Linked DNA regions of Homo sapiens. The protein of the gene in region 2 purifies or fractionates together with the protein of the main gene of each other region. This does not show direct contact. Each region holds a gene or a part of one and is shown on either strand. Other genes may lie near its edges.

Region 1 (10,995 bases), on a different chromosome or scaffold from region 2:
TTTCCACAGCATTCAGGCTCTGCAAAGTGCTCTGGTGGACGCTGCTATTGCAAATGAGCTTGGCTTTCTCCCGCAGTCGTGACTGTTCTGGAGATCAGTCTTGCTAAGGCTTTCATGGTCTAAGACACAAGCAGTACATCTGGATCCTGGGGCTTCATTTGCAAACAGGAAATGGAAGGCTCTTCAGAGTTCAGTGGCCACACGCTTCCAAGTTCCCCTTTAAAGCTGAGATTCAGCTGGGTGCGGTGGCTCACACCTGTAATCCCAGCACTTTGGGAGGCAGAGGTGGGCGAATCACGGGGTCAGGAGTTCGAGACCAGCCTGACCAACATGGCGAAACCCCCATCTCCACTAAAAATACAAAAAAATTAGCCGGGCATGATGAAGCGTGCCTGTAATCCCAGCTACTCAGCACGCTGAGGCAGGAGAATCTCTTGAACCCAGGAGGTGGAGGTTGCAGGGAGCCGAGATTGCGCCACTGAACTCCAGCCTGGGTGACAGAGCGAGACTCCTTCTCAAAAAAGGCAAAAAAAAAACCCTGAGACTCGCTCCTTGGCTTTCAGGAGACAACAGGCTGATGGCAGAGAGGGTCTTGCACAGAGAAGCAGCAGAATTTTTTTTTTTTTTGAGACGGAGTCTTGCTCTGTCACCCAGGCTACAGTGCAGTGGCACAATCTCTGCTCACTGCAACCTCCGCCTCCCAGGTTCAAGCAATTCTCATGCCTCAGCCTCCCAAGTAGCTGGGATTACAGGCATGCTCCACTGCGCCTGGCTGATTTTTGTACTTTTAGTAGAGACAGGGTTTCACCATGATGGCCAGGCTGGTCTTGAACTCCTGACCTTGTAATCTACCCATCTCGGCCCCCCAAAGTGCTGGGATTACAGGCGTGAGCCACTGCGCCTGGCCGAGAAGCAGCAGAATTGACACACACCTTGCACATGGAATTAATACAAAAGCACTGCCACATTACCCTTCGCTGTTCTCTTTCCAACTGACTGCGGAGTGTCAGATCCCTAATTGATTGGACGCTCTATCATCTCTTCCATCAAAGAAGACCTACCAAGTGCTTCCAGCAGTAGATTCTGACACTCCCTGCTAAAACTCTCGAGGCAAGGACTGGAGGAGGTTGGGAGAGCTGGTCCACTTACACCGGTGGTTCTCAACAGGGGCACTTTTGCCCCCCAGGGAGACACCTGGCAATGTCTGGAGACATTTCTGGCTGTCAGAACTGAGTGAAGGTCTGGTAGGTACACGCTACAGATCCTGCTAAACACCCCACAATGCACTGGGAAGCCCCCAACAGCAAAGAATTATGCCTTAAATGGGAAATAGTGTTGAGGTGGAAAAAATGACAATGGTCATCTTATAAAAGGAAATCTTAAGTAGGCTTTCTTTTTCTCAGAGGCGCTAGTAAGCTCAAGCATGAAGAGACTGCAGAGATAGAAGGGGCAGTGAGCCAGGCACAGTGGCTCACTCCTGTAATCCCAGCACTGTGGGAGGCCAAGGTGGGCACATCGCTTGAGGCCAGGAGATCGAGACCAACCCTGGGCAACATAGTGAGACCCTGTCGCTACAAAAAAAATAAATAAATTAGCTGGCCGTGGTGGTGCACGCCTGTAGTCCTAGCTACTTAGGAGGCTGAGACGGGAGGATCACTTGAGCCCAGGAGGTTGAGGCTGCAGTGAGATATGATGGCACCACTGCACTCCAGCCTGGGCAACAGAGTGAGAACCTGTCTTAAAAAAAAAAAAAAAAAAGGAGGCTGGGCACGGTGGCTCACGCCTGTAATCCTAGCACTTTGGGAAGCTGAAGCAGGCAGATCACTTGAGGTCAGGAGCTCAAGAACAGCCTGGCCAACATGAAGAAACCCCATCTCTACTAAAAATACAAAAATTAGCTAAGCATGGTGGTGCACACCTGTAATCCCAGCTACTCGGGAGGCTGAGGCAGGAGAATTGCTTGAACCTGGGAGGCGGAGGTTGCACTGAGCTGAGATTGCGCCACTGCACTCCAGCCTGGGTGACAGAGCCAGACTCCGTCTCCAAAAAAAAAAAAAAAAAAAAAAAGAGGGCCAGCACCTATCACCCAAGAAAAAAGGGACCAAAGCAAAGCCAGGAGTCCCAGCTGAGCTAATGATCCTATCAACAATTAAATGAAACACAGCCAACATAAACGTGGCTACTCACACACCATCTCGACCACTTTATTTTGTAGGTGGTACTGAGAGTGATCAGAGGCAGACGAGGACATGCTTAAATACAAGGGCAAGCCTGCCTGGTATGCTCGCTGGGAAAGCCTCAAGCCAAGACCTCAGCAACTGCTGAGGTGGTTATTTAGACTTCACACAAAATTCTGCGTTAGGAGGATACCTCCCTGACATCCACTCTTGATTTAAATCTTCCAAACAGATCAATTTGGGAGGCAGAGGCTGCTTGTGTAGGTGTTTCCATATCTATTTTGATTTGTGCTAGAAGCAATGAGCACGTCTAGAAAAAGAACAGATCTTAAGTGGCTTTCTAGCAATGATACAGGAGAGACACGTGGCCCAACCTGAGTAGCAAGACATACTCGGTGAAGGCTGAGATCACCCGAACCACTGTAGTGGCATACCTGGCTTGTCAGAGGCGACTGTATGTTTAACTTGCCATTCTTGGGAATGTCTATTCTATATCCGAGGGGAAGAAAAGCGTTGAATCCAACAATGAGGTCAGGGTGCTCGTGGAAGAGCTGCGAGACACGTCTGATGACTCCAGGAGTATCGATGCTAGAAGAAACAACGGAAGTGGGCAAAAGGGTCTTGGGAAATAAATGAAAAATATAATCTATTCCCCACTCCCTTGATACTGCCACATAAAAACCTTCTCAACAGACAACAAAGGAACCTAAAATGTGACCCACCAGGCGCAGTGGCTCATGCCTGTAATCCCAGCACTTTAGGAGGCCGAGGCAGGCAGATCACCTGAGGTCAAGAGTTCGAGACCAGACTGGTCAACATGGTGAAACCCTGTCTGTACTAAAAATACAAAAACGAACTTGGAGTGGTGGTGCGTGCCTGCAGTCCCAGCTACTCAGGAGGCAGAGGCACAAGAATCACTTGCACCCGGGAGGCGGAGGCTGCAGTGAGCCCAGATCACACCACTGCACTCCAGCCTGGGCGACAGCACGAGAATCCATCTCAAAAAAAAAAAAAAAAGTGCCCCCATGTGATAGCATCTGTACACCATGACCTATCTCCTGACTGGCTAGGCCTGAGCTCCCTGTTCCCTCCTGGTGAGAACCAGAGAATACTGACATCGCTCAGCTCCCCTAAAACACTCCAAGAATGGGTACTCGGTTCTGAAAATGTCAGGAGAGCCAACCGCAAGGCCTGGACTCCAAGAAATGGCAGGAGGCCAAAGTCCTCTAAGCAATGTGAAAACTTCCCTCATTTTGTATCAGATAGAGATGACTATGACACAGGTTTCCATCTGAGCAAACAATTGCAATGCATAAATACCAATGGTACTGCCAAGAATGGGAAAGGTGTAAGAAAAATAGGAGGGGAGAGATGGGGTCTCCCTTCTGGCTGCATTGCAGCCCAGCCCTTAGCACTGGGCTCCCGGAAGGAAACCAGGCCAGCCCCACCATGTTTCCTAAGAGGGGGCAGCAGTATGGTAAGCATGTGACTTCCAAGAATCTGAGTCAGAGGGTCTGAGTTCTAGTGACACCTCTGCCACTTAGGTGGGTCCCTTACCCACTCCAAACCTCAGTGAGTCTCCTATAAAAACAAGGGCATGATCCCAGGGTTTCCCATCTATCTGTAATCTTCCTTGATTCTGGGCCTGCAAAATCATCTCATGTGTTTTAAACGTTTTCTGTGTGCCAGCTCCCTTACTAAGCATTTTATGCGTCTTACTTCCAAGCAGGCCTGGGACCACAGTGAGCCCAGAGAAGCATCTTGAGGACAAGATTAAAGGGGAAGAGGGTGCCAAAAATTTCAATCATCAAGACAATAACATTTTACAGCGCTTGAAAATAAAAATCAAAATGGGTCCCACCAAATCTTTCATGAACAAAACTAATATAAAAATCAACATATTAAATCAAGGCAGGATTTGACTCTATGAGTGTGCACGGCCTCGCCCTCCCTGCCTCCCCCCAGATCCCTGTCCTGCTTCCAGGAATCCCCACAAAGCTCCACAAGGTGGGTACTACCCATTTCCATTTTTGTTACGAGAAGGAGCTAGGGCTCTGAGAGATTGGACAACCTGCGCAAGGTCACCCGGCTAAGGGGGCAGGCTGGAGAGGGGAGGTCTCACCCCGCTAGGCCCGATTCCGGCCCAGGGGGGTCCCCTGAGGTGGAGAGGGGCCCCGCTGGTACCTCTGGCTTTTGAACTCCTTCATGATCTCCAGGAAGCCGTTGTAGGTGGCAGGGTCGCTGCCAAAGCGGATCTTCACCTGGTCCAGATAGGTGAGGGCGTCTTCTACCTGCAGAGAGGGGGAGGGTCCCGGTGGGCCCTGGCCGCGGAACGAGGGGACGAGGGGCCGGGGTCCCTGAGGGGAAGGGGATGGGCTGGGCTTTCGGAGGGCCGAGGTGAGAGGTGAGGGGTGAGGGGTCCGGGGCAGTGCAGAGGGGAGGCCGAGGTGGGGCTGGGGCCGGGCGGGGCCTGGGTGAGGGGCGCCCGCCCGCGGGGTCCAGAAGATGGGTTCCCCGAGGGAGGGCGGGGACGCCACTCACGTGCACCGGCAGCTTCTCGTGGCCTGCGGAGCCCGAGCGACCCCAGCGGGCGCCGCTCAGCCCCCGGCCCGCGGGGCCGCCGGCACCGCTGCCACCGCTGCCACCGCCAGCGTGCGCCATGTCCGAAGTCGGAGCTGCGCCCCGCCCCGCCCCCGCCCGAGGTCCTGCCGCGCATGCGCAGCCTCCGCCTTTGGAGGCGGGGTTTGATGACGTTGAGGGGCGGTGCTCTTTGAGGGACTCTTCTGAAGACCTTCTCCTTAAGATTGGTATCATAATTAATGATTTATATAGCAGGGGTAGGCGAGCCAAGACCCGCCGCCTACTTTGTCCGGCCCCGCAAGCTCAGAATTATTTTTACATGTTTACATAGCCGGGGGAAAAATCCAAAGAAGAATAGTCTATGACCTGTGAAAAGTTTGTGAAATTCACATTTGAGGGTCCCTGAATAAAGTTTTATTAGCACACAGACACGCCCACGCGTTTACCTGGCTTCTCTGCCTGCTTTCGCCTTACAACAGAGTAGGTAGTTGCTAAAGATCCTACAGATCTGCAGACCCTGAAGTATTTACGATCTGGCCTTTTATGGAAAAAGTTTGTTGGCCCCTGCTTTATAGAGTTGACGGGACGATGAGGTATGAGCCCCCAGCGCCCTAATATAGGGCCTTGCGTGGTGAATTTTTGCTAAATGGCCTTTAAGTTAGTCCTACTCCTCCCATCTTCACTTCCCTATCCTTGGCCCCGTCACTTCCCATCTGGACCAGTTTAGGAGCCTCCTAACTCTGGTACTTTCTTTTTTTTTTTTTTTTTTTTTTTTTTTTTTTGAGACAGAGTCTCGCTCTGTCGCCCAGGCTGGAGTGCAGTGGCGCGATTTCCGCTCACTGCAAGCTCCGCCTCCCGAGTTCACACCATTCTCCTGCCTCAGCCTCCTGAGTAGCTGGGACTACAGGCGCCCGCCACTGCGCCCTGCTAATTTTTTGTACTTTTAGTGCCACCCCACCTGGCTCTAACTCTGGTACTTTCTCAGCCCTGATACTATCAAGAACTCTAGGCTGGGGATGGTGGCTCACGCCTGTAATCCCAGCACTTTGGGAGGCCGAGGCGGACGGATCACGAGGTCAGGAGATAGAGACCATCCTGGCTAACACGGTGCAACCCCGTCTCTACTAAAAATACAAAAAATTAGCCGGGCCTTGAAAAAAAGAAAAAGAAAATGAAAAAATTGGCTGGGCGCCGTGGCTCACGCCTGTAATCCCAGCACTTTGGGACGCCGAGGCGGGCAGATCACCTGAGGTCTGGAGTTGGAGATTAGCCTGACCAACATGGAGAAACCCCGTCTCTACTAAAAATACAAAATTAGCCGGGCTTTGTGGCGCATGCCTGTAATCCCAGCTACTCGGGAGGCTGAGGCAAGAGAATTGCTTGAACCCGGGAGGCGGAGGTTGCAGTGAGCCAAGATCACGCCATTGCACTCCAGCCTGGGCAACAAGAGCAAAAACTCTGTCTCAAAAAATTAATTAATTAATTAATTAAATAATAAAATAAAATGAAAAAATTAGCTGGGCGTGGTGGTGCACACGTTTAGTCCCAGCTACTCGGGAGGCTGAGGCAGGATTGCTCATGCCCAAGAGTTCAAGGCTGCAGTGAGCCATGATCTTGCCACTGCACACCCCAGCCTGGGAAGCATAGCAGTGCTTTTTTTTTTTTTTTTTTTTAAAGAGCATCTCATCTCTTAAAAAAAAAAAAACAGAAAAACAAAAAACTCCACTTTTTCCACCACTCCTTCCAAACCTCCAAGGTCTTCCTATTTCTAATGAGATGAAATCTAAGCACCTACATTGCAGGCTGTCAGAATTGGTCCTTAGGAACCTTTTCCTGCAGGATTTTCCAAGCAAACTGCCTGCCTCTGTGCAGAACTTCACACAATTGCCTGACCAACCTGGCTGCTTCCTGGTCCCAAGCATTGGCACTCACCATTTCCTTTGCCAGAAGTACTGTCATGCCTCTTTGTTATTCAGAAAACACCTATACATCCTTCTAAACGCAGCCCAAATATCCCTTTCCCTCAGGAAGTGTTCCCAGTCCCCTTCTATGTCTCCCCTCAGTCCCTTGTATTTCATATTTGTTTTGTGTCCGTCTCTAATACAAATCCCTGACACAGTCTCTCAGTCAGCATTCATCAAATAAGTGAACGTTCAATTAATGACCAAGTGCTTTCTCTTTTTATAAGTGAAGAGGTGCAGGAAAGTTGAGAGTAAATTGGCATCGAGTGCATCATTTACCAGGCACCTTGCTAAGTGTCAGGAATAGAATGGTAAAAAGGAACGCAAATTTGGCCGTTAAGAGCTTTTAGTCTCTCAGGATAGACAGGAATCTAGTAATCACACAAATGTAAAGTTTCACATGTAACAAATACTTTAAAGAGAAGGTATACATGTAACAGTTCCTAAATTTCTGTTGCTATGACTGTGTAACAAATGAGCCCTTGACAATCCCAGCACTTTGGGAGGCCAAGGTGGGGGCATGCATTGAGGCCAGGAGTTTGAGACCAGCCCAGGCAACATAGCAAGATCCCATCTGTACAAAAACATTAAAAAGAAAGAAAAATGGAGAGAAAAAATAAAAACATTGTAAGGTCTGGGCTTTCTGTAAAAGAAAATAAAAAGCAGCTCAAGACTTAGAAGCTTCAAATGACAACAACATTCACGGGGCAAGTGGCTCATGGCTGTAATCCCAGCACTTTGGGAGGCAGAGGTGGGTGGATCACATGAGGCCAGGAGTTCAAGACCAGCCTGGACAAGATGGTGAAATCCCATCTCTACTAAAAATACAATAATTAGCCAGGTGTGGTGGCACACACCTGTAATCCCAGCTACTTGGGAGGTTGAGGCATGAGTATCGCTTGAACCCAGAAGGTGGAGGTTGCAATGAGCTGAGATTGCGCCACTGCACTCCAGCCTGGGGAACAGAGCAAGAGCAAGACCCTGTCTTGAAAAAAAAAAAAAAAGAAAGAAAAGAGACATTCATTTTACTCTTCAATCTGCAATTTGGGCAGGCTTGGGAGGAATAACTCAACCTTGGCATCAGCTGGGTGGCTCAAAGTCTGGGGGCTGGAATCACCTGAATGTTTGCTCACACATATGTATGTCAGTTGCTACAGGCTACAGGCCGAGACCCTCGCTGGGGCCGTTGCTTGGAATACCTACATGTGGTCTCCTTGCAGCCTGAGCTTCTTCACAACTACCGTTCTAAGAACAAGTGAGCGTGTGAGCCAGGTGGGAATCATATCATCTTTTCTTTTTCTTCTTCCTCTTCCTCTTCTTCTTCCTCTTCTCCTTCTCCTTCTTCTTCTTCCGGAGATGGCAGGGGTTGGGGTGGGACTCAGGGTCTCAGGCTGGCCCAGGCTGGCCTCAAACTCCTGGACTCAAAGGATCCTCCCACGTCAATCTGTTGAGTAGCTGGGACTACAGGCATGCATCACTGCACCCAGCTCCCATATTACCTTTTCTCACCCAGACTCGGAAGTCACGCAGAATCATTTCCATTGCATTCTTTCCATACAGGCTGTTACAAAGTTTTTCCTAAATTCAAGAGGAGGGCAAATGGCCAAGAGTATCATGTGGGACAGGAAATATGTTGTGGCTATTTTTGGAAAATACCACCTGTTACCTAGGGAAACCTAACCCAGTCTTGCAGGAGATGAGGGAGGCTTCCCAGAGGAGGTGGCATTCTAGCTGAGATCTGAAGAATGCGTAGGCATTCATCATGAGAAAAATCACGAACAGCTGTGATTTTTGAGGTGGGAGACAGCATGGTACATTTCAAGAGTTTTTTTTTTTTTAAGACGAGTTTCCCAGGCTGCAGAGAGGGAGGGGAAGAAAGAGAGTACAAGATAATCCCGGAGCAGCCAGAGGAGCGGAACACACAGCACCTTATGCACTGAGTTCAGGCTTTAGCATTCACGCTGGTGGAAACCATCCAAGGGCTTTGAGCGGAGGAGCTGCAAGTTCAGGTTTGCATTTGAAAGTGATCACTCTGGCTGCTCTGCAGGAAAGTGATTGGAGCGGAGCCAGGGAGGGTGGAGGGAGGCTGTTTCATCATTTAGGCAAAGGACGATGGTGGCTTAGACCAGGATGGGAGCAGTGGAAGTAGAGAGCGGTGGGTGGAAGGGAGTGGTATTTAGAAAGTAAAGCATGGAAGATTTGTGGCTCCCAGCCAGGAAGAGCAGCGAAGGCAGACTGAACACTCTGTGGCCACCAGATGTCTGGACAGTCCGTTTCTTACCAAAGCCTCCCAGTGTTACAGGAAATGGGTCCCGATCCAGACCCCCCAGAGAGGGTTTTTGGATTTCACGCAAGAAAGAATTCAGGGAGAGTCTGTAAAGTGAAAGCAAGTTTATAAGGAAAATAAAGGAACAAAGAATGGCTACTCCACAGACAGAGCAGCCCCGAGGGCCGCTTATTCCCCATTTTTATGATTTATTTCTTGATGATATGCTAAACAAGGGGTGGATTATTCATGCCTCCTCTTTTTAGACCATAGAGGGTAACTTCCTGACGTTGCCATGGCATTTCTAAACTGTCTTGGCGCTGGTGGGAGTGTAGCAGTGAGGACCACCAGAGGTCATTTTGATTTGGGTAGATTTTGGCCGGCTTCTTTACTGCAACCTGTTTTATCAGCAAGGTCTTTATGACCCGTATGTTGTGCTGACCTCCTATCTCATCCTGTGACTAAGAATGCTTTAACCATCTGGGAATGCAGTGCAGTAGGTCTTAGTCTTATTTTACCCAGCCCCTATTCAAGTCGGGGTTCCTCTGGTTCAAACACCTCTGACACTGTTACGGGAAAGGGGTCCCAATCCAGACCCCAAGAGAGGGTTCTTGGATCTCACGCAAGAAAGAATTCAGGGCCAGTCCATACAGTAAACTGAAAGTAAGTTTATTAGGAAAGTAAAGGACTAAAGAATGGCTACTCCATAGACAGAGCAGCCCCCAGGGCTGCTGGTTGCCCTTTTTCTTAGACAGAGTCTCGTTCTGTCGCCCAGGCTGGAGTGCAGTGGCGCCATCGTGGCTCACTGCAAGCTCCGCCTCCCAGGTTCATGCCATTCTCCTGCCTCAGCCTCCCGAGTAGCTGGGACTACAGGCGCCTGCCACCACACCTGGCTAATTTTTTTTGTATTTTTAGTAGAGATGGGGTTTCACCATGTTAGCCAGGATGGTCTTGATCTCCTGACCTCGTGATCCGCCCACCTTGGCCTCCCAAAATGCTGGGATTACAGGTGTGAGCCACAGCGCCTGGCCGCCCATTTTAATGGTTATTTCCTTTTGAGACGAAGTCTTACTCTGTCGCCCAGGCTAGAGTGCAGTGGCGCGATTGCAGCTCACTGCAACCTCTGCCTTCCAGGTTCAAGCGATTCTCCTACCTCAGCCTCCCAAGTAGCTGGGATTACAGGTGCGTGCCACCACGCCTGGCTAATTTTTGTATTTTTAGTATTAGAGACGGGGGTCTTATCATGTTGGCCAGGCTGGTCTCAAACTCCTGACCTCAAATGATCTATCCACCAAAGCCTCCCAAAGTATTGGGATTACAGGCATGAGCCACCGCGCCTGGCCAGTTATTTCTTGATGATACGCTAATCAAGGGGTGGATTATTTATGCCTCCCCTTTTTAGACCATATAGGGTAACTTCCTGATGTTGCCATGGCATTTGTAAACTGTCATGGCACCGGTAGGAGTACAGCAGTGAGGACAACCAGAGGCCACTCTTGTCTCCATCTTGGTTTTGGCTGGCTTCTTTACTGCAGGCTATTTTATCAGCTAGGTTTTTTTTGTTTGTTTGTTTTTGTTTGTTTTAGACGAAGTTTCACTCTTGTTATTCAGGCTGGAGTGCAATGGCGCAATCTTGGCTCACTGTAACCTCCACCTCCCAGTTCAAGTGATTCTCCTGCCTCAGCCTCCCGAATAGCTGAGATTACAGGTGCGCACCACCAGGCCCGGCTAATTTTGCATTTTTAGTAGAGACGAGGTTTCTCCATGTTGGTCAGGCTGGTTTCAAACTCCCGACCTCAGGTGATCCACCCACCTCAGCCTCCCAAAGTGCTGGGATTACAGGCATGAGCCACCGCGCCAGGCCAGTAAGGTCTTTATGACCCGTATCTTGTGCTGACCTCCTAACTCATCCTGTGACTTAGAATGACCTAACCATCTGGGAATGCAGCCCAGTAGGTCTCAGCCTTATTTTACCCAGCCCCTATTCAAGATGTTGTTGCTCTGGTTCAAA
Region 2 (10,014 bases):
TAAGTAATGAAGGTATCATTTCTTCTGTGTGTAAAATGAACTTATGTGGCTAAAATATTTGAAGTTGAAGTATAATAATAGTTTTAGTTAAATCTTTCCAATAAGTATTTTAAAACATATACTAAAAAGATACATATTCTACTGAGGATGACTGCAAATATCAGTATGTGGATGGTTAAAGGGAAAGGATCTCATATAGCGTTCTTGAATGCTGTGGCCATTGAATGTTTCAGGTCAGATTTTTGTTTGCCAAAAGCATTCCTATTCAATTTGTATTTTTTGTAAATGCACTTACTTTAAAAGGTACCCAATTCCTGTCTTATTTACTGTTTCAGCATATTAAGCTCTGAAATATAGCATTTTCCCAAACTTTCTCGTGGTTTTCTATTTTCTCGAAGTAAATGACATATTTAACCTTCTTTAATATTACTTGGGAAAACTTATTAGAAAACAAAAAATCATTTTCTACTTCAAAACGTATCTCCAAAGTGTACACTGTTAACTTTGCACTTAACAATGTTAAGTTGAACTTGTATGGATACACTTTAACTTCCGGAAAAAAAAAAAAAAGGTAAAATGACAGATTGAGATAGCAATCATCCTGTTACTGTAAAAATTAAAATGAGTGGTAGAGTGACATTTCTTACATCTTTCTATGTATCATTCTGGTCGTGTCCATTTGCTGAAAGTAGATGTTTCTTAGTAACGCTTATTTTTTTATACTAAGAAGATTAGTGTGGTAAACTAGGTATACCTACAAGTCTGGAGCCATCAGTTCATATCTGCATTCATCGGCTGAATTCAGACTTAAAACCTTTCAAGTGCAGCTTTTAGCAAATGAATTTTCCAAATGATACTTTCCTTATGAAAAGATGTTACCTTTATGTGGCTATGTCAATAAACAATTATGTATTGTTAGTGTTAATATTAGTAGCAATATTTCTTTTAATTTGAAAAATTTCAGGAAGCTATAAATGAATAACTTAGTTTTATGATATGTGTAATATGAAATATTTTTTCTGTTTTTTTCTTATCTTTCTGCTTATATAATAGTAGAATTTTTGAAAAATTTTGTATCGAGACAAAACATTATTAATCACTGATAATTTTGAATTACAACTTTAAAACATTTTATCATATCAGGACATCAGTCTATAAAATGAAAGGTTGCTAATCAAGTATTTAGGGTATTTTTCAAATTTTCAATGATATTAATAAGCAAGTCATTTTAATATTCTTAATGCTTCAAACACAACCTTTTAATGAGACTTGAGGTTGGAGTAGGGAGGCATAGTAATGACATTCACAGTTTTATGTTCCTTTCACCAGGCGGCAGATGAGCCTGCCTACCTGACAGTGGGAACCGATGTCAGTGCCAAGTACCGAGGTGCCTTCTGTGAGGCAAAGATTAAGACTGTGAAAAGGCTGGTGAAAGTTAAGGTAATATTTGTTTTTATGCAATAGTTTTATTAACTCTAGATTGAAGAAATTTGGGGAGAGAGAGACTGCAAATCAGCATTTTATTGAGTCATTATATGAAAACCCTTTATATACCAAACTTAAAGGAAAAGCACATCAAAAATAAAGAAATAAAAAACTCAAAAGGAGAAATTATTCCAAAATGCTACCATCAAAATACCATGCTCATGATATTTCCTGTCATTTGGCTCTTAACTATTTGTGGTAGCATACTTGGACTGTAATCTATTTTCTCCCCTCATTTAATGTTCAGGTAGAGACAATTTTAGTGTTTAGGACAATACAAATACAACAGGAATTATGTTTTCAAGACAGTGTAAAAAAGCATTTAAAAAGTTTATTTTGTGACTGGGCGTAGTGTCTCATGCCTGTAATCCAAGCACTTTGGGAGGCCGAAGTGGGCAGATCACTTGAGGCCAGGAGTTCAAGAGCAGCCTGGCCAACGTGGCGAAACCCTGTCTCTACTAAAATTGCAAAAATTAGACCCGGCGCGGTGACTCACGCCTGTAATCCCAGCACTTTGGGAGGCTGAGGTGGGTGGATCACCTGAGGTCAGGAGTTCGAGACCAGCCTGACCAACATGGTGAAATCCTGTCTCTACTAAAAATACAAAAATTAGCTGGGTGTGGTGGCAGGCACCTGTAATCCCAGCTGCTCAGGAGGCTGAGGCAGGAGAATTGCTTGAACCCGGGAGGCGGAGGTTGCAGTGAGCCAAGATCATGCCGTTGCACTCCAGCCTGGGTAACAGAGCTAGACTCCATCTCCAAAAAATAAAAAAATTAACCTGGCATGGTGGTGCACACCTGTAGTCCCAGCTACTCGGGAGGCTGAGGCAGGAGAATCGCTTGAACCCAGGAGGTGGAGATTGCAGTGAGCCGAAATCACACCACTGCACTCCAGCCTGGGTGACAGAGGGAGACTAAAAATATATATGTATATTTTTGGCTGTGTGAAGTGGCTCACACCTGCAGTCCCAGCACTTGGGAAGCCTGAATGGGGGGATTGCTTGAGCCAAGGAATTCAAGACCAGCCTGGGCAACATAGTGAGATCTTGTCTGTCCAGAAAAAAAGATAAAAAGTATTAGCCAGGTGTGGTGGCAGGCACCTGTGGTCCCAGCTACTCTGGAGGCAGAGGTGGGAGAATTGCTTGAGCCTGGGAGGTCAAGGCTGCAGTGAGCTGTGATTGTGCCACTGCACTCCAGGCCGGATGACAGGGCAAGACCCTGTCTCAAAAAAAAAATTTTTTTTTAAGATGCTTTTACTCTGAAATAACTTTTTTTTTTGGTGGTTCCTGCCAGTAATTTTCTTATATGAATATATTTTTAATAGTCTTCGTTACTTTATACTTAGATACCTCCTATGCTTATTATAAACATTTTTAACATTATAGAGGTATATCATATAGTTAATGAAGTCCTCCTTAAAAAATTTTATTTAAGTTGATGAATAATAATTTTACATATTCATGGGCTACATAGTCATGTTTTGATACATATAATGTATGGTGATTAAATCAAGATAATTTGCATATCTATCATCTCAAACATTTTTCATTTCTTTGTGTTGGGAATATTCAGTATCCTCCTCTTAGCCATTTGAAACAATGTGATATAGCATTGTTAACTACAGTCATCCTGCTGCGGTATAGAACACTGTGAAAGTCCTCCTTGATACGACTCCAAAGAGATTTGATGTGGTCTTCCAGATTTTTTTTACTGTGCCAGTCATAAAATTATTGTCATTGGTATTGGATCATGCTGTATTGCAGTTTGCTTTATTCACTTATATATCTGATGTTTTCCTACCAGAATTAAGCACCATAAAAGGAGGAAACGTCTGACTTGTTCTATGCCCAACACATAGAGTAGTGCCTGATACATAGTGGACCCTCAAAATTTGTTGAATGAATCAGTGAACTAGAGCAGTGATTCCTAAAGGGTCCCTCCAGACCAGCAGCATCAGCCTTACTTGGGAACTTGTTCCAAATGCAAATTTTCCCCACCCCAGATCTACTTCATCAGAAACTCTGGGGGTAAGATCCAGTAATTGTGTTTTAATAAGCCCTTTAAATATTTCTGATGCATGTTAAAAGTTTAAGAATCAGGTTGGGCACGGTGGGTCATTAATCCCAGCACTTTGGGAAGCCAGAGTGGGCAGATAACTTGAGGCTAGAAGTTTGAGACCCACCTGGCCAAAATGTTGAAACCCTGTCTCTAGTAAAAATACAAAAAATTAGCCAGACATGGTGGTGCAAACCTGTAATCCCAGCTACTTGGGAGGCTGAGGCACGAGAATTGCTTGAGCTGGGGAAGCGAAGGTTGAGACCCTGCCTAAAAAAAAAAAAAAGTTTGAGAAACATTGACTAGAGGAGTGTGATTTGTAGGTTAAATAGATGTATCTATGATTATTATAAAATTTATGTTTCAGTTTTCTTGATGAACCTTCAAGTATTAGGATAGGATGTCAATTGACATTCATTTCTTTTTGTTTCATACAGTGTTTTTATCATGTCAGCTATATAGGATTTGATTACTCTATATTTATTTGGGATTCTTTAACAATTCAAATTTGGTATTGTGGCTCTTATTTACTTAAAATTAATACAATGATTGTTTTAGGAGGTCTTACCATACATTACCTAGATTTTGAATTTATTTGGACCATCTATTATTTGGACCATAGTAACCAGCCATCTGTTACGGATGGTTACTTTATGTCTTTAGATGTGTAGTAGAAGGGAGCACTTGTTTGTATCAGTGCATATTACGATTATTGCTTAGCTTCACTTTATAAAGGATCAGAGTTCTGGTTTTAATTTGTTTACCTTTCATATAGGCAATACAGTTTGATACTGTTGTTTTTCTTTGTGTACTTGGTGGCAATCAGAACCTTTTGTGACTTGATAAAAAGCAATAAAGGCAGTTTTTTTTTACAGTAATCATTAAAGATTATTATATAGTTCATTTAGTAAACAGTTATTAAGTGCTGATAATATGCATTGACACTTGCTAACTGTTGGGGATATAGCAATGAAGGGAAGACTCAGCCCTCAAGGAGCTCACAGTTAATAAGAGAATGTAATAAGTATTACATTAGCAGGGGTCACCACATGGTGCTAAGAAAGCATAAATTAAAGACATTATTGTTATAGTGTTACTATAAATGTATTTGTTTTAAAAGTAATATGCAAATTATTGTGCAAAATGTTTTTCAGGTACTCCTGAAACAGGATAATACCACACAATTGGTACAAGATGACCAAGTAAAGGGTCCTTTAAGAGTATGTATGTTGTACGGTTTAAAATCTGAAATAATCATAGATTTATACCATATTTACTGAATTTACATTTCTACATAGACTTAACATTTTATGAGAACGTTAATCAGAAAACAATACATATGAAGGGTTTAAATATAATTAGTATAAATTGTGATATTGCAATGGCTGTATTCTGTTTTAGATACTAAACATCTTCTAGAAGGGTAATTTAATATATATAAACATGTTAAGTTTTTCACCTACCTTTCTGTTTTGAATTCTTGAACTGGATACCTGGCTTTGTTTTTCACATTGTTGCTGTATCTGAGGTGATGTTTAGCCTTCTAAGTTGAGTATCATAACCATCAATCTTTGGTTGTTCTAATTTACCAAGTAAACTATGTTCACTTCCTAATTCAATTTAATGAATACCTAGATTATGTTTTCCATGCATTTCTGGCCATTTGTTTATGTAATAAATCTGTTATATCAGAGTACCACTTTGGTTAATATCTGATATACAAAGGTCTGGAAACTGAAAGAAGGTCAACTGGTCCATCCCTATCTCTCCAGGTGAACCTTTATCTAAAAGGTACCTTAAATACAAATGCTGAATCCAATATTCACTATTTCTGTGAAAGAAAATGGATGCTATTTTGGTTGTCTTATAATTTTACAGTTCTTCGATTTAATTTTCTTGAAGGCAATGTGATATAGTGGAAAAGCTCTAAAGTAAGATTTAAGAGACTGGGCTGTCATGCTGGACTCTGCATATTATTTTCTCTTTCTGAACGGCAATTTTCAGTGTGTAAAGTAGGGGTAATAATAGCTACCTAACTTTTGTCAAAGTGTTTTGGAGCTCAAATTGCATAATAAATAGATAAGTACTATGAATGATAAAGATCTCAGACAGTGTAAGATAGAATTATCATAAGTATGGTGTTTATTTTTCTTAGCTAGATTATATAGTTGGTGGGAGTGATTTGGTTTATTTGTTTAAATTTGGTAAGGAAATTGGGATTTCACATTTTAGGTTGGAGCTATTGTTGAAACAAGGACATCTGATGGATCTTTTCAGGAAGCTATTATCAGCAAGTTGACAGATGCTAGTTGGTATACCGTGGGTAAGTAATTAAGTAATTTAACACAGATTTGATTTGGAGGTTGCATGTATCTGTGTTTTGTGGATACACTGAATCATTGTGTTGGTGGAGAAATATATATTATTTCCTGTCAGTTTACTGGATATAGCTGACTAAAATTCTAAGAATGCCCTGTAGGTAACAAAAATAATTATCTCTTACAGTAAGTTGGCCACTTTTGTCTATTTCATCCAAAAATGTACTTCTATTTTAGGTTACTTTGATGTTTCTTTTCAAGAAAGTTAGATCACATGATTGTGATCACTTTTTCTATAATTACAATTAAAATTGCATAGTTGCGATCGTTACTGTATTGCTACATATTTTATACAAGGGTAATGTAGATGTTGCCAGACAATTTACAGATTTAAAAAATCCTGACCATGGTAGATTCAAGAATAGGTGATTGTTAACTTAGTTTTTGATTTTTGATACAGTGTGGGTGCTCATATTAACAGCTTTCAAGGTCGGGCATGTTGGCTCATGCCTGTAATCCTAGCATTTTGGAAAGCTGAGGCGGGTGGATCACTTGAGGTCAGAAGTTCGAGACCAGCCTGGCCAACATGGTGAAACCCCGTCTCTACTGAAAATACACAAATTAGCCTGGTATTAGTGGTGCATGCCTGTAATCCCAGCTACTCTGGAGGCTGAGGCAGGAGAATCGCTTGAACCTGGGAGGCGGAGGTTGCAATGAGCCCAGATCATGCCACTGCACTCCAGCCTGGGCGACAGAGTGAGATTTGGTCTCAAAAAGAAAACAGCTTTTAAGAAAAATATAGATGCTCCTAATATGAATGCATGAATGCATTCTTAACATTCCATGCATAAGCTTATACTGGCTTTAGATAACTTTATTGTATTAATAGTGAGAAGCAACAAGTGTCATAATACTTGTAAGTTAAAACCTTAAAGTAGTACTTAAATAGTTGCTGTCATTATGTTGATGAGAATAGCATTAAGTAACATTTCCAAATCTCCTCTCAGTACTTTCAAACTGCACAATCCTGTGGATAACATCCAATCTATAGCATTGTTGGTTTTTATACTTATTTCTTGGTTTAAGTGGTATAATTATTTTGTGGTTTTCTTGTAGAAATAAAAGAATGACCATTTAGGTTTACTTTTAGTTTACTTGATTTGTTGCTTTGGGTAAAAATCATTCACATCCAGTTGATGCTCAGTGTTGTGAAGAACTATGCTTTGGTTAAAAATTTCTCTGTCTTACCCTGTACCTTCTATTAGTAGTACCAATTTGCTGTGTGTAAGTACTTTTTTCAAACCTCTTTGATGCTTCTTGGACTTACTAGAATTTAGTGTTGGTTCACAGTGGTGCTATTATTCTGAACTACATATTTTTAGGAAGCTTAGTTGTGGCTACTGATAGTTGTTAAATTTTAAAAACTAAGTGGCCAGATGCAGTGGCTCTAACCTGTAATCCCAGCACTTTAGGGGGGCGAGGTGGGCGGATCACCTGAGGTCAAGAGTTCAAGACCAGCCTGGCCAACATGGCGAAACCTTGTCTCTACTAAAAATACAAAAATTAGCTGGGTGTGGTGGTGGGCGTCTGTAATCCCAGCTACTCAGTAGGCTGAGGCAGGAGAATCGCTTGAATCTGGGAGGCGGAGGTTGCAGTAAGCCTAGATTGTGCCATTGCACTCCAGCCTGGGCAACAAGAGCAAAACTGCGTCTCAAAACAAATAAAAACTAAGCTTAATGTTAACTCTTAGAGATTAAGTAAATACATCTTTGCTTTATCAAACTAAGACCTGATAAAAATTACAGGTGTGTGTAGAATCACCGGAAAATATATGATGCATATTCAGATATTTATATTGCACCTTATATTTTAACTCACTATAAAGGTTGTACTCACTTTGAAGCTTTACTGATAAAATGCGCATGCTCTATAGAAGGATTACTTTTCAGGTTTTCTCATTTTGGGTTTCTTTATCCCAGAGTAGTTATTCAATTATGAATAGCAACCTTTGTCCTCTACATGAGTAGCGTTTTAGTGTTTCTAAAAACTAGTCACTGCTAAGCATTCTCTATGGTGATTTTCTGTGTTGGATAATTACAGAAGAAATTGTATAATTCTTGTTCTCAAAGAGCTTTAGAATCTTAATTGCATATAATTGAGGTATCAAGCATTAGTGGACATAAGAATCACTTGGTGCTTGCTTAGAAAAATGAGGATTTGAGGACCCCAAGCCTCTCCAATTAGTAGGCCTGGGGATGGCAGTACAAGAATGTTTTAATAAGCATGTCAGTGATTCTGATGCAGGTAGTTCACACTTATAAAAACAGGGAAAAACAGATTTATTTGGGAGAAAAATTCAAAATATTAAAGATTTTTGCACTTACGTGCATGAAGGAAATTCATAAAAAGATTTTGAAAGGCACTGTTCCATTCAGAAAACTCAAGATAGCACTGCTCTAAAGAACGTTTAGATATTGAAGGAAGTGGATCACATAAAGAATGATCAGAGTATAATGACCTGAGTTACCAGTTGGTTTAAAAAAAACAGTACAATGAAATGTAAAACCTCTTGGGTCATGAACATCCTGTATTTTTCTTTCAGTGAGTACCTACTACCTACCTATTAGGTGTAATTGCTCTTTTCTGGAATTTTTTTTGATTTCTAGTTCCTAGCAAAGTATTACATGGGTATAGTCAGAAAATTATTCAGAGTGTTTATGACGTGTGTTACCTTTTTTGGTTTCATGAGATACCAGAAATTATGTCAGATTATTAAAAATAAAACAAGAGGATACCACATTGCTGGTTTGGATCAAATAGGAGTTATGATCATTAGTGATCTAAAGTTATCATTAGAGTCAGTGATATTAACTTCTTCTTGCATAATACAGGTATCAATTTCCCTTCTGTTAAACATGATTAACCAATTTTGAAAGAGATTATGGATATAGTATGACTCAGTTTTTAAAAAATCTGGTAATATCTTACCCTCTAATGGTTTATTTCTTGTTTGTTTGTTCGTTTTAGAGACAGGATCTTGCTCTGTTGCCCAGGCTTTTGTTCAGTAGCACTATTGTAGCTTCCTGCAGCCCTGAATTCCTGGGCTCAAGCAGTCTTACCGCCTTAGCCTCCCAAAGTGTTGGGATTACAGGCATGAGCCACTGCTCTCAGCTTCCCCTTTAATGTTGAATAGTAAACAGCACCAACTCAAGGGGATTTTTTTGTTTCTGTTTTTTGAGCAATAGAAATATTTCCTCTTCCTACCATTCCTACCATAGTTTACTCATTGATAGTTGTTATCCTTGCCATTAAAGATAAGGAATCTGTAATATGTGGAAGTGTGTTATCTGTTCAGTCATTCAAAAGGTGTTAAAATTGGGATTAGAATTCATACCTCTATCCAGCCCAAATCTCTAGTTATGTTTTTTAAAAAAGGAATTAATATGTCCAGTTAAATGTTACCACTAACTCCTGGTAAATACAACTGTCAGTAAGACATTTTGAAGGTACTCTCTGTTTTGCCTTTTTGTAATATAAAAACATATACTTGAAAAGTAAGGAAAAGTTAAAGGATAGAAATTTCAGTAATTCTAGTAATTAACTTTGAAAATGTACACACACAGATCATTTATCAAGTTTAGCACTAAAATCTATCATCTGTATTAATGTTTTTGTAACAAGAAGTGCTTAAGATTCAGATTATTTTGTACCTTGTAGTTACTGTTTTGAACATCGGTTATATCAGATTTTGTGTAAGTTCTAGTTAATATTGAGTAGAGGAGGTTTAGATTCAACTGGTGAATTAATTAAATTTTGTAGAATGTCCTGCAGGTTTATAAGGTTTTTAATGTAGTCAGACTCGCTTATGACAAATGTTATAATCAAAATCAACCACAAAATGTTTTCAAACCCAGGTGGCTCTTCTACTGACTAGAAGATAATTCATTAAGAAATAAAGTAGTAAACAAAAAAAAGTGTTTAATCCTATCATAGGCTTTAACTCATTTTTTAAATGGCCTTCCCTAAGACTTAGTATTCCCATGATATTTTCTTAATGTAATTATGTATTTGAGTGTTAATTTCTTAAATTTTCAGATTCCTGGAGTTTTTTTTTGTTTTTTTTTGTTTTTTTGTTTTTACCTTAGCTGCTGAGGGAC
Region 3 (10,014 bases), on a different chromosome or scaffold from region 2:
TCTTTGGACAAATTGGTGTAACAGTAAGCACCGAGATTTCAAATTCCCAGATGAGAAAAAAAAAATTAATCAGGAGGAAATTTATTTAGTAAAAATTCAAAGCTAAAGAAATGTGAGAAGGAAGCCAAACCCAAAAAACTGTAAAAAATACAATCTTCTCTCCAGAATTAGGTTAAAAAATACAGTCAACCCCATTCTAAACCCCATATTTCTTAGAAAAGTCACCCAGTCCTGAACACAGGGTCTTATACACAAATACATGTAGCTTGATTTGCAGATCAGCCTCTGGGATCGACCTTACACTGGCCCCAATTAGAAGTTCAAAAACAAAAATTAAGTTAGGTAGTCAGACATCTATAAATACTAGTATCCGCATGAATGAAAACACCCTGGCTTTGGTATGGCTACAGAAATCCATCTGGAAATTATTCAAAAGGACGTGGTTCAGGGAAAAGGGGGTAGGCAGGGCATGGGGGGAGGGGAACACACAAAACCCCCAAGCAGAGGTAAAATGAATATTGGAACACACCCGCAGCAAACACTGTACATAGACTTGAGGCAGATGCCTCTAACACAACACATATACAGGTTCTTGATCAAAATGGTCTGGACCAACCTTTTTCAAAGTAATCACCTGCAGGAAAGAGTTTAAACTTGGAAATTCATCTGGTGCCCTGGGGTCTAGTGAGAAACAATGACCTTTTGGAATAATGGCCACCCAGGCTAGAAGCTAGCCTCCTTCTCGTCTAGAAACTTCAAAGTCTGTCTTCCCCTTTAGTAAGGCTTCTGCCCACCACAGAAGTACCCCCATCTACTAACAGGAAGGCTGCTTCTGTTCCTGGTCACCACTGAGGCCTGTCAGGCTTCAACTGCTGATTTTTCACCTCTGGGGTGACAAAAGAAAATATTAAGTCCTCTGGGATTAGAAATGTAATTTACTATGCTGATTCTCAAAATGGACTTCTCACCTGCCCCCATTTTCACTAGGCCCAATTAAGAGTTGTGAGGACGCCGAGGAGAAGGCAATGGCGGAGTCGAGACTATGACTAAGGGCGCCCTCAATACCCTCAAAAGTCAGAGAGGAGAGAAGGCAAAAGTGCCCATACCCTGGTCTTCAAATAAATAGTTGCTTCACAAAAGCAGAGGTCCCACAGAGAAGGCCAGAAAAAGAGGCAATTTGTTCCTGCTTCAATGCGGAACCCCAGTGGTTATCAATACAATCCTCAACTATAAAAACAAACTTTGGTATACTGTTTAGGAGGACAAAACACATGATCATTGAAAAACTCCACCTTCAATGGAAAAATACATGAAATATATCTAATTTCCATCGCAGGGCACTACATGAAAACCAACAGCTGCACAATATGTGATGTGACACACACATCGTATGTGTAACAGTTCAAGCGAGGGAAGTCCTGCCTCACAGTCAAGGCTAACAAACAAGAACAGGTGAAGCCTGTGTTTACCATGGGCTGGGTTCACTGTAGTAAACATCATAGCAGTCGGGGATTGGAGGGCAGAGAAGAAATACAGAACCCCAGGCAACTTTTGATAACAGCGTCATTTATCCTGTTTTCTAAATAAGACTCCAACACCAGAAAAAAAAAAAAAAAAGAGGAAAAAACGGATTGTAAGTTAAAACAAAAATCTATCTGTATAAGTCTTTACTTGTACAAGTCTGTACAAGTCAGTAAGGTTTGGTCTCTGCAGAGCCAGAACTTCAGAGAAGGTGATTTAATTGTCATCACAGTCCCCCCAACTTGCTTGGGGGTATGTACATCAAGAGACAACATGAAGAGAATCACTTGAGACCAAAAGAATTACTTACAAAGAAAGATTTCCTAGGATGTGTAAGTTCTACTGATTGCTCATAGAGACGCTAACAGTTGCTCTAACCCCAAATTTTTTGAACATCTCAAGATGGCAACATGAGTATAGAAAACCCCAACACTCATCACCCAATGAATCATTTCTCCAATCATGGGAGTGAGGGAAGGATGTAGGAAAGGCTGTTTCATCAGGACTCATTAGGGAGGGTGTCAGTCCAGAGGCAGCCACAGCAGAGCTTTCCTTGTCTTCAACCTGGGCCAAATGAAGCTGTGAGCGCTCAGGGCCTGACAACAAAGTTCTCCACAGGTTTGGAATGGCCAATGTGCAATAATGGCATCAGCCACAAGAGTGAAACTTGAATCGTGCATGAGGGTCTATAGATCACTGATTATTGCACTATCAATCTCACCTCCCACCCGTAAAAGATTACCCAGATAATCAGCCTGTGGCACATACTTACTACTACCTACTTGGGAACAAGGGAGAGGAAGGAATTACAAATGAAAACTTCTGAAATGACCACTGCTTATTCCAGCTTAAGCTAGAACAAATGTTTGAATAAATCACCTGCATTAAATAACATTTAAAATATGGTACCTTCAGCACATTATAAATATGAAATGTCCCCTCCCCCAACCCCATTTACTTCAGTGCACATAGTCTTCCAGGCAAGCTTTTCCATCGCTCAGCGAGCGGAATGGATGGTGTGCACAGATGTTACACAAAGCATTTATTTCTCTGAGAAGGCCGAGAGCCACGAGAATTCATCATCTCCTGCTAGGACCTCTGCCCCAAGCTTCTGGGCAAATAGTGAATTGGACGCGACAGGGAAAGTAGCTACGTGATCCACTAATCAGATTCAAAACATGAAAATGCACTGGAGAGTGTATCCCTTCCTGCTCTTCTCCATGGTAGAGAGACTTAAAGATAATCAATAAAAATAGCTGTCCCTTCAAACTCAGAGGAGGTTTTCAAAAACAAGTATAAGCAAAAAATAAAGAAATAAAAGGAAAGTAAATCAAACCCCCCAATACGCCTGAAAGTAAAACAGTCTCATGGTGACTGATGTCTGGAAGAAGTTGAGGCAGAAAAGACTGACAAAGTTGGAAGCATCCGGCCACAAAAGTGCCCTAAAGAATTCACTGCAGTGCTCTCCATTTCCAAGGCTGAGTAGCTATTCCCAGTAAGTTAACATTTTTCTATTAAGGAGAAAACGAAACAAAACAAAAATAAAACCCACTCCAGAAAAAGGGTCAAGAGAAGAGCACTGTAGAAAGTCAAGCAGCTGAGCGCCGGCGGATCACGAAGAGCCCGCGCTGAAGCTGGCCCAGGTAGATCCTCATCTTGGTGCTGTCACTTGTCTTCCTCACCCAGATCTGCAGGGGAGAGGAAAGGGAACAAGATGAAAAGTTAAATACAGAAGAGCAAATCTCCTACACCATCAAAATATCTGCACGAGTGAGATGCAAGCAGAAGGCTGGTAGCCTCTTGCTGGAATAAACTGTCTCAACTTGTGAGGGCTTCATAAGCACCCCTGACCTCGGGCCATCTAAAGGCATGCCGCTGGGAACAGGCATCAGCCTTGAACTCGTTTCTCAGCCATCTCTCTCACACCTGTGATTACGAAAATGGAAAGCACAGCAATCTTGGGTTCCATTTCTGCCTTGATCTTAAAGATGCTTTTAAATTTGGTTTGATTACTGTGTTATCAACACTCAAGAGACATCTATTCATAAACACAAACTTTCAAATTTGGAAGTATTTTCCTTGCTCCAAGGGACTTCCATATTATACAAACTTTCAATACTTTGGTTTCCTGGCAATGAAGGCTAATGGTTGTGCAGAAAAACAGGGAAAAAATATCAACAATAGAAAAATGCCCACTAATGAGCTAAGGCCCAATTAGGATCATGAGAAGGTTGAAGCACTTCCGAGAGTCCTTCCCTCCTCACCATATCCCCCTCTCACAGACAGTATTAGATTACAGTGCATTTTACAGGGCAGATGCATTCTTCCATTGAATTGAGAATGAACTCTTGCAACAGGGGACTGCCAGGGCTGACAAAGTGCACTCAATAAGGGGCATCCTAAAGCCATGGGTGAGAAGGGGAGCTGCTGCCAGTCACCTGACCCCCTGAGCCAGGGTTACTGAGCTCTGTGTGCCAGACACCATGCTGATCAGGCTGAGCTTTTTCACCCGCAAGACAACCCTATGAAATAACTACTATCATTGGCCCCATTTTAAAGAAGAGGAAACCAAAGCTCAGCAAGGCTGAGTCACTTATCACGACGTGAATTCTGGTGTCTGACATCAAAGCCCCTGGCTCTTCTCTACTAAAGCAGTCTCTGGCTTCTTCTTGCCTGTTTTTCTGTAACATGCAATTAAATAGAGCCAAAAGCACAGTTTTTTGAAAGGTCTGCATCTCACCCAAATATACAAGTTTACAGATTTATCTCCTCCTTCCTGGACTCAGTTTTCAGGTTTTAAAAAAGCTTATTCTGTTTCATCTCAATTTCTTTAATGTGATTATTCAGCAGTATCTCTACTGCTTTAAAGTCAAATACACTGGCTTAAAAATTTAAAAAGTTAAAGACCTCACATGAAGCTAAGCCTCCAAGGGACCTTGCAGAATCATTTTAAATGAAAAACTGATCCCAAGAAAAGCTAAGTCAGGGAGTCATCCACACACTCAGAGCTACCCACCAAACCTGCTTGGAGTCAAGCTATGCTAAAGCCAAGTAGCTCCAGTGTCACCTAGAATTTGATCTGAAAAATGAGCTGGAACACTTTCAAGAAATGAGAACGGTTTCCCCATTGCCAGAGTTGCATGTCTTCAGTGCACTGAAGCTTCTCCCCTCCAGAAGACGTGTTTCAGTGTCACCATTTGTCAGATCTCACTGACACTCTATTATGTCAAGACGCGACAATATTCGGCAGAGAGAGGGGAAAAACAATCTAACTTGCATTTATATTTTTCTGAAAAATCTTGAGGTATCATAGAGGAGAATAATGCACTGGTTCTGAAGTTAGGGTCAGGTACTAGAAGGCCACATGTGCTTGTGGAACAACCCAGACAGCCAGGTGCAAATGATTACCATGAAATCGTGACACCTCTTGGCTGAGGACCAGGTCTCTCTATTAGCTTCCCTGTTCTGGTTCTGACTTGGCTTGAGGGGACTCACACGGATCCTCAGCCCAGAGAAGAATGGCATTCATTTATCTAGAAGGCTCTCCCTAACTTCTAAGTAAACAATCATTTTGCAAACTAGTCACATTTCAGGGCATTTTCAATTCAGGAAGCTGGAAGAATAGAAGAGGCTTAAGTTACTTCATAATCCAGTTTCATTACATTTACTGTGCACTGGCACGAATAAGTTACAGAGGGCAGACACATAGAAATCAATTTCTTTGCAGACATTTGTGGACTGATAAAAGATCAAGCCAATCCAGCTATTAAAGTTTTTAACTTTAACTAACAACATAAGTTACACATTGCTTATATACTCCTCATGAAAGACCACTTGGAGAACTCAGAGGGCAGTCATATCATCCTCAGGTATAACCCTCTGAGCTGACTTTAAAACCAGACCCCATCCATCCTAAAGGAGTGTCTCGAGGAGACCAAAAACCAAGGGCATAACCCTGGCAACTTGTTTTGAAGCACAATAGGACATCTCAGCTAGGAAAGACGGCAGGCAAGTGGCGTGTGGGTCGTTTCAGGCCAGCACTCACTTAGTGAGCACTTACTGGGTGCTAGACCCTGTGCCAGGTGCCTCATTCAATCCTCACAGCAAGAAACAAATCTACTGGTATGTGTGAAAGTTCTAGAGAAACAAAACCAAGATGGAGTATGCTCCACAGTCAAGCTCCATTCTCAGTAGATGGTTACCTTAAAAAGAAGCAGGAGTTGGCCAGGTGTGGTGGCTCACGCCTGTAATCCCAGCACTTTGGGAGGCCGAGCTGGGTAGACCACGGGGTCAGGAGTTCAAGACCAGCCTGACCAACGTGGTGAAACCCCATCTCTACTTAAAAAAAAATACAAAAATTAGCCGGGCGTGGTGGTGGGTGCCTGTAATCCCAGCTACTCAGGAGGCTGAGGCAGGAGAATCACTTGAACCTGGGAGGTGGAAGTTGCAGTGAGCCAAGATAGCACAACTGTACTCCAGCCTGGGCAACAGAGTGAGACTCTGTCTCAAAAAAAATAAAAATAAAAAAAAAGAAGCAGGAGTTGAATGTACAGACACCACACAGACTTGCTTTTTGTTCTTTCCTGGAATCTAGCTCCGTGGTTCCCAAATCAGTAGCTGTACCGGGAGTTCACAAATACCCCATGGAATAGACAAATCCGCATATGTTGTAGTCAAGCGAATGTAAGGACTTTTCAAGGATGATTTTGACAATGTGCAATTTCTGCCTGACTTTAGAATCTAACCCACATAGAAGACAGTACTCCACTGTACTTCCTTGGTGGCACTTTCATTTCAGGTTTGCCCTACCAACACTTCGCAGTACACATTTTGCTTCCCTAAAGGTGAGGGAGTGTGGTTCCCACCTCATTGGCTCCTACAGAACTGATCACGCAGCTCAGTTTCTGGTTGTCCTTTGACTCCAGATAGATGGCCTGGCTCTTGTGGTACCTGACAAAAACAAGGCACACATTTTTAAAAAGGGAGGGACAGAGACAGGAAGTAAAAACCAAACAAAACAAAAACACCATCACAACAAAAATTATAATTAAAGAAGTCTTAATAATTCACATTTGAGGAATAGCCTGGATTTCCCATTTAGCTTAATTTAAAGGCTTCCATCCTGAGGCCAGGCGCGGTGGCTCAAGCCTGTAATCCCAGCACTTTGGGAGGCCGAGGCAGGCGGATCACAAGGTCAGGAGATCAAGACCATCCTGGCTAACACGGTAAAACCCCGTCTCTACTAAAAATACAAAAAAAGTAGCCGGGCATGGTGGCAGGTGCCTATAGTCCCAGCTACTTGGGAGGCTGAGGCAGGAGAATGGTGTGAACCCGGGAGGCGGAGCTTGCAGTGAGCCGAGATGGCGCCACTGCACTCCAGCCTGGGCGACAGAGCAAGACTCCATCTCAAAAAATAAATAAATAAATAAATAAATAAATAAAATAAATAAATAAATAAATAAATAAAGGCTTCCATCCTTAGGTTAGAAGACCACCTAATCTTCTTTGGGATCTAAAGCTTATATTCCTTGGTCCCTCTACAGAAGGGAAAAGGCTGAGGAAAGTGTTGGAAAACTATGTATTTTTCCCTTTTTTTGGACTATATGACCCAGTTCAAAAAGTAAATTAAAAATTGTTAAATAAAAACTCTGTTTCCCCTTTCTGACCCCACACCAGAACACTGAAGAAGGTTGGACAGACAAAATATACAGGCATAAGCCACCGTTATTTATTTTCTATTTGTCCAAGTCAGTCACCAACAAGAAGGAAGGCTGACTTTAACCCTTTAGTCAGTCATTCAAAAATACTCATTAAGCACTTACTGTGTACCACGGACTATGCTGGAGGCTGGGGACAAACAGTGAGAAAGGCCACAAGTTCTCCACTATCACAGAGATTCAAATACACTGGGGATAAGGAACATTAAATAACCACACCTGGTAACAGCTAATCAGGCAAAGTTCCAAGTGCCATGACGTATACCAAAGGGTATCTAATTTGGCCTGGACAGTTGGGAAAGCTGCTTTGAATACAGTAGATAAGACAGACACTCCCCTTTCAACTCCTGCATCTACTCTCAACCTGTAGTGTAGGGCCACTTCTTATTTCTACAAGTTCAGAGACAAGGCCAAGGATGAAAGTGAAGTTGCTGGGGGCCAAAGCCCAAATGGGACAAAAGCAGCTGCCACAGGATGAAGGAGCCCCTGCTGGATTACAAGAGTTGGAAGTATCAGCGGAGCTGCAGCTAGCAACCCTGGCCTGGGCCAGCCCCACGTCGATTAATAACATAAACTTTGGTTCATTTTGGCTGCAAAGATCTGGCTAACCAGACCCATAAACTCGTGTAAATTTAGTAAAACACATCTCCCAGCAAAGCATGATGGCTTATTCTGTTTTGCTGGTATAAGGAAATAACCTATTGCCAAGACATGGCAAGTAAAGGATGCACTTCACTCCCATAATGAGCTTTTTCCAGTCTAGGGTCTCAATTCTCTTTAACCTGCTACTTATGAACTGAAAACTCAGGTTTCCAAGTCAATGTACTTTCTGAAAATACTGTTAAAAGAAACAGAATTTTAGGCCGGGCGTGGTGGCTCACGCCTGTAATCCCAGCACTTTGGGAGGCCAAGGTGGGCAGATCACAAGGTCAGGAGATCGAGACCAGCCTGGCCAACATGGTGAAACCCCATCTCTACTAAAAACACAAAAATTAGCCGGGAGTGGTGGCAGGCTCCTGTAATCCCAGCTACTCGGGAGGCTGAGGCAGGAGAATTGCTTGACCCCGGAGGCGGAGCTTGCAGCAAGCCAAGATCATGCCACTGCACTCCAGCCTGAGCAACAGAGCGAGACTCTATCTTAAAAAAAAAAAAAAAAGAATTTTAAATTCAATTAGAACAGCGAGAATGGTTTAAATGCAAGTTTTAAAGTTGCTTTTGGCCCTTTATTAGTTGGTAAACTGGCAGGGGACCTTCATTATGCTAAATATGTATTATCACAAGGGCCGAACTGTACAATGCATAAGAAAAGGCTAAGTTCATACTAACACTAACACTTCCCCTTGTTTCTCTCTCACATCTGAGCCAGCTCTCCTATGTAAACAGTCATGTCTTGAGTAATGGTTAAAATAAAAATACAGAGGGAGAATACTCACAGTTGTTCTAAAGGGACTGTAAGTTATTAAAGAGATAAAGACACAAAACAAAATGCAACTACCCTCAAGTCATTCTGATACAACTTTCTAAACACTTTAATAAAGAAAGGTCATGGATGTGGTGTAGAATATTACGAGTGTGGAAACATGCTCCATATACTGGTAGGTAAAAAAAAAAAAACCAAAAAAAACTATGTCAACTATGTTCCTGTGTTTATGATAAAACATACACATGTTACAGCTGGGTGCAGTGGCTCACGCCTGTAATCCCAGCACTGCGGGAGGCCGAGGTGGGTGGATCACTTGAGGTCAGGAGTTCAAGACCAGCCCGACCAACATGGTGAAACCCCCATCTCTACTAAAATTACAAAAATTAGCCAGCATGGTGGTGTGCGCTTGTAATCCCAGGTACTCGGGAGGCTGAAGCACAAGAATTGCTTGAACCCAGGAGGCAGGGACTGCAGTGGGCTGAGATCATGCCACTGCACTCCAGCCTGGCTGGAAGAACGAGACTCTGTCTCAAAAAAAAAAAAAAAACTGGCCAGGTATGGTGGCTCATGCTTGTAATCCTAGCACTTTGGGAGGCCAAGGTGGGTGGATTGCCTGAGCTCAGGGGTTCGAGACCAGCCTGGGCAACAAGGTGAAACCCCGTCTCTACTAAAATACAAAAAATTGGCCAGGCGTAGTGGCTTACGCCTGTAATCCCAGCACTTTGGGAGGCCGAGGCGGGTATATCACGAGGTCAGGAGATAGAGGCCATCCTGGCGAACATGGTGAAACCCCGTCTGTACTAAAAATACAAAAATTAGCTGGGCGTGGTGGCGGGTGCCTGTAGTCCCAGCTACTTGGGAGGCTGAGGGAGAGAACAGCTTGAACTCGGGAGGCGGAGGTTGCAGTGAGCTGAGATGGCGCCACTGCACTCCAGCCTGGGTGACAGTGCGAGACTCTGTCTCAAAAAATATAAATAAATAAATAAAATACAAAAAATTAGCCAGGCATATTGGCGTGTGCCTGTAGTCCCAGCTACTCAGGAGGCTGAGGTAGGAGAATCGCTTGAACCTGGGAGGCGGAGTCTGCAGTGAGCCAAGATTGCGCCACTGCACTCCAGCCTGGGCGACAGAGCGAGACTCTGTCTCAAAAAAAAAAAAAAAACCAAAAATAACACATATACATGTTACATGTGTATCCATGTATCATATCCTCACAAAGGTCTTTTAAAGAAAACAGCTGACTCTGGAAGGCTATTCCAACAATTCTCATGAGATGCATTGTATTTTCCTTCAGTGGTACTTAGAACCCAAACCCAAGAAATTCAACTGACTTAAAAGCGAACACCCAGAGTA

What was found.
Region 1: the proteins of ARID4A (region 2) and SIN3B purify together in Homo sapiens (affinity purification with western blotting; 2 studies listed by BioGRID and IntAct, with this or other methods). This does not show direct contact.
Region 3: the proteins of ARID4A (region 2) and SUDS3 purify together in Homo sapiens (affinity purification with mass spectrometry; 2 studies listed by BioGRID and IntAct, with this or other methods). This does not show direct contact.

What each region holds. Positions count from the first base shown.
Region 1 is NC_000019.10:16,823,264-16,834,258, reverse strand, and holds the start of SIN3B (paired amphipathic helix protein Sin3b), read right to left. Parts: upstream 4,862-10,995; 5' UTR 4,839-4,861; coding exon 4,719-4,838; intron 4,469-4,718; coding exon 4,362-4,468; intron 2,766-4,361; coding exon 2,612-2,765; intron 1-2,611.
Region 2 is NC_000014.9:58,300,251-58,310,264, forward strand, and holds part of ARID4A (AT-rich interactive domain-containing protein 4A), read left to right. Parts: intron 1-1,329; coding exon 1,330-1,440; intron 1,441-4,693; coding exon 4,694-4,759; intron 4,760-5,771; coding exon 5,772-5,862; intron 5,863-10,014.
Region 3 is NC_000012.12:118,407,530-118,417,543, reverse strand, and holds part of SUDS3 (sin3 histone deacetylase corepressor complex component SDS3), read right to left. Parts: intron 6,472-10,014; coding exon 6,387-6,471; intron 3,210-6,386; coding exon 3,111-3,209; 3' UTR 1-3,110.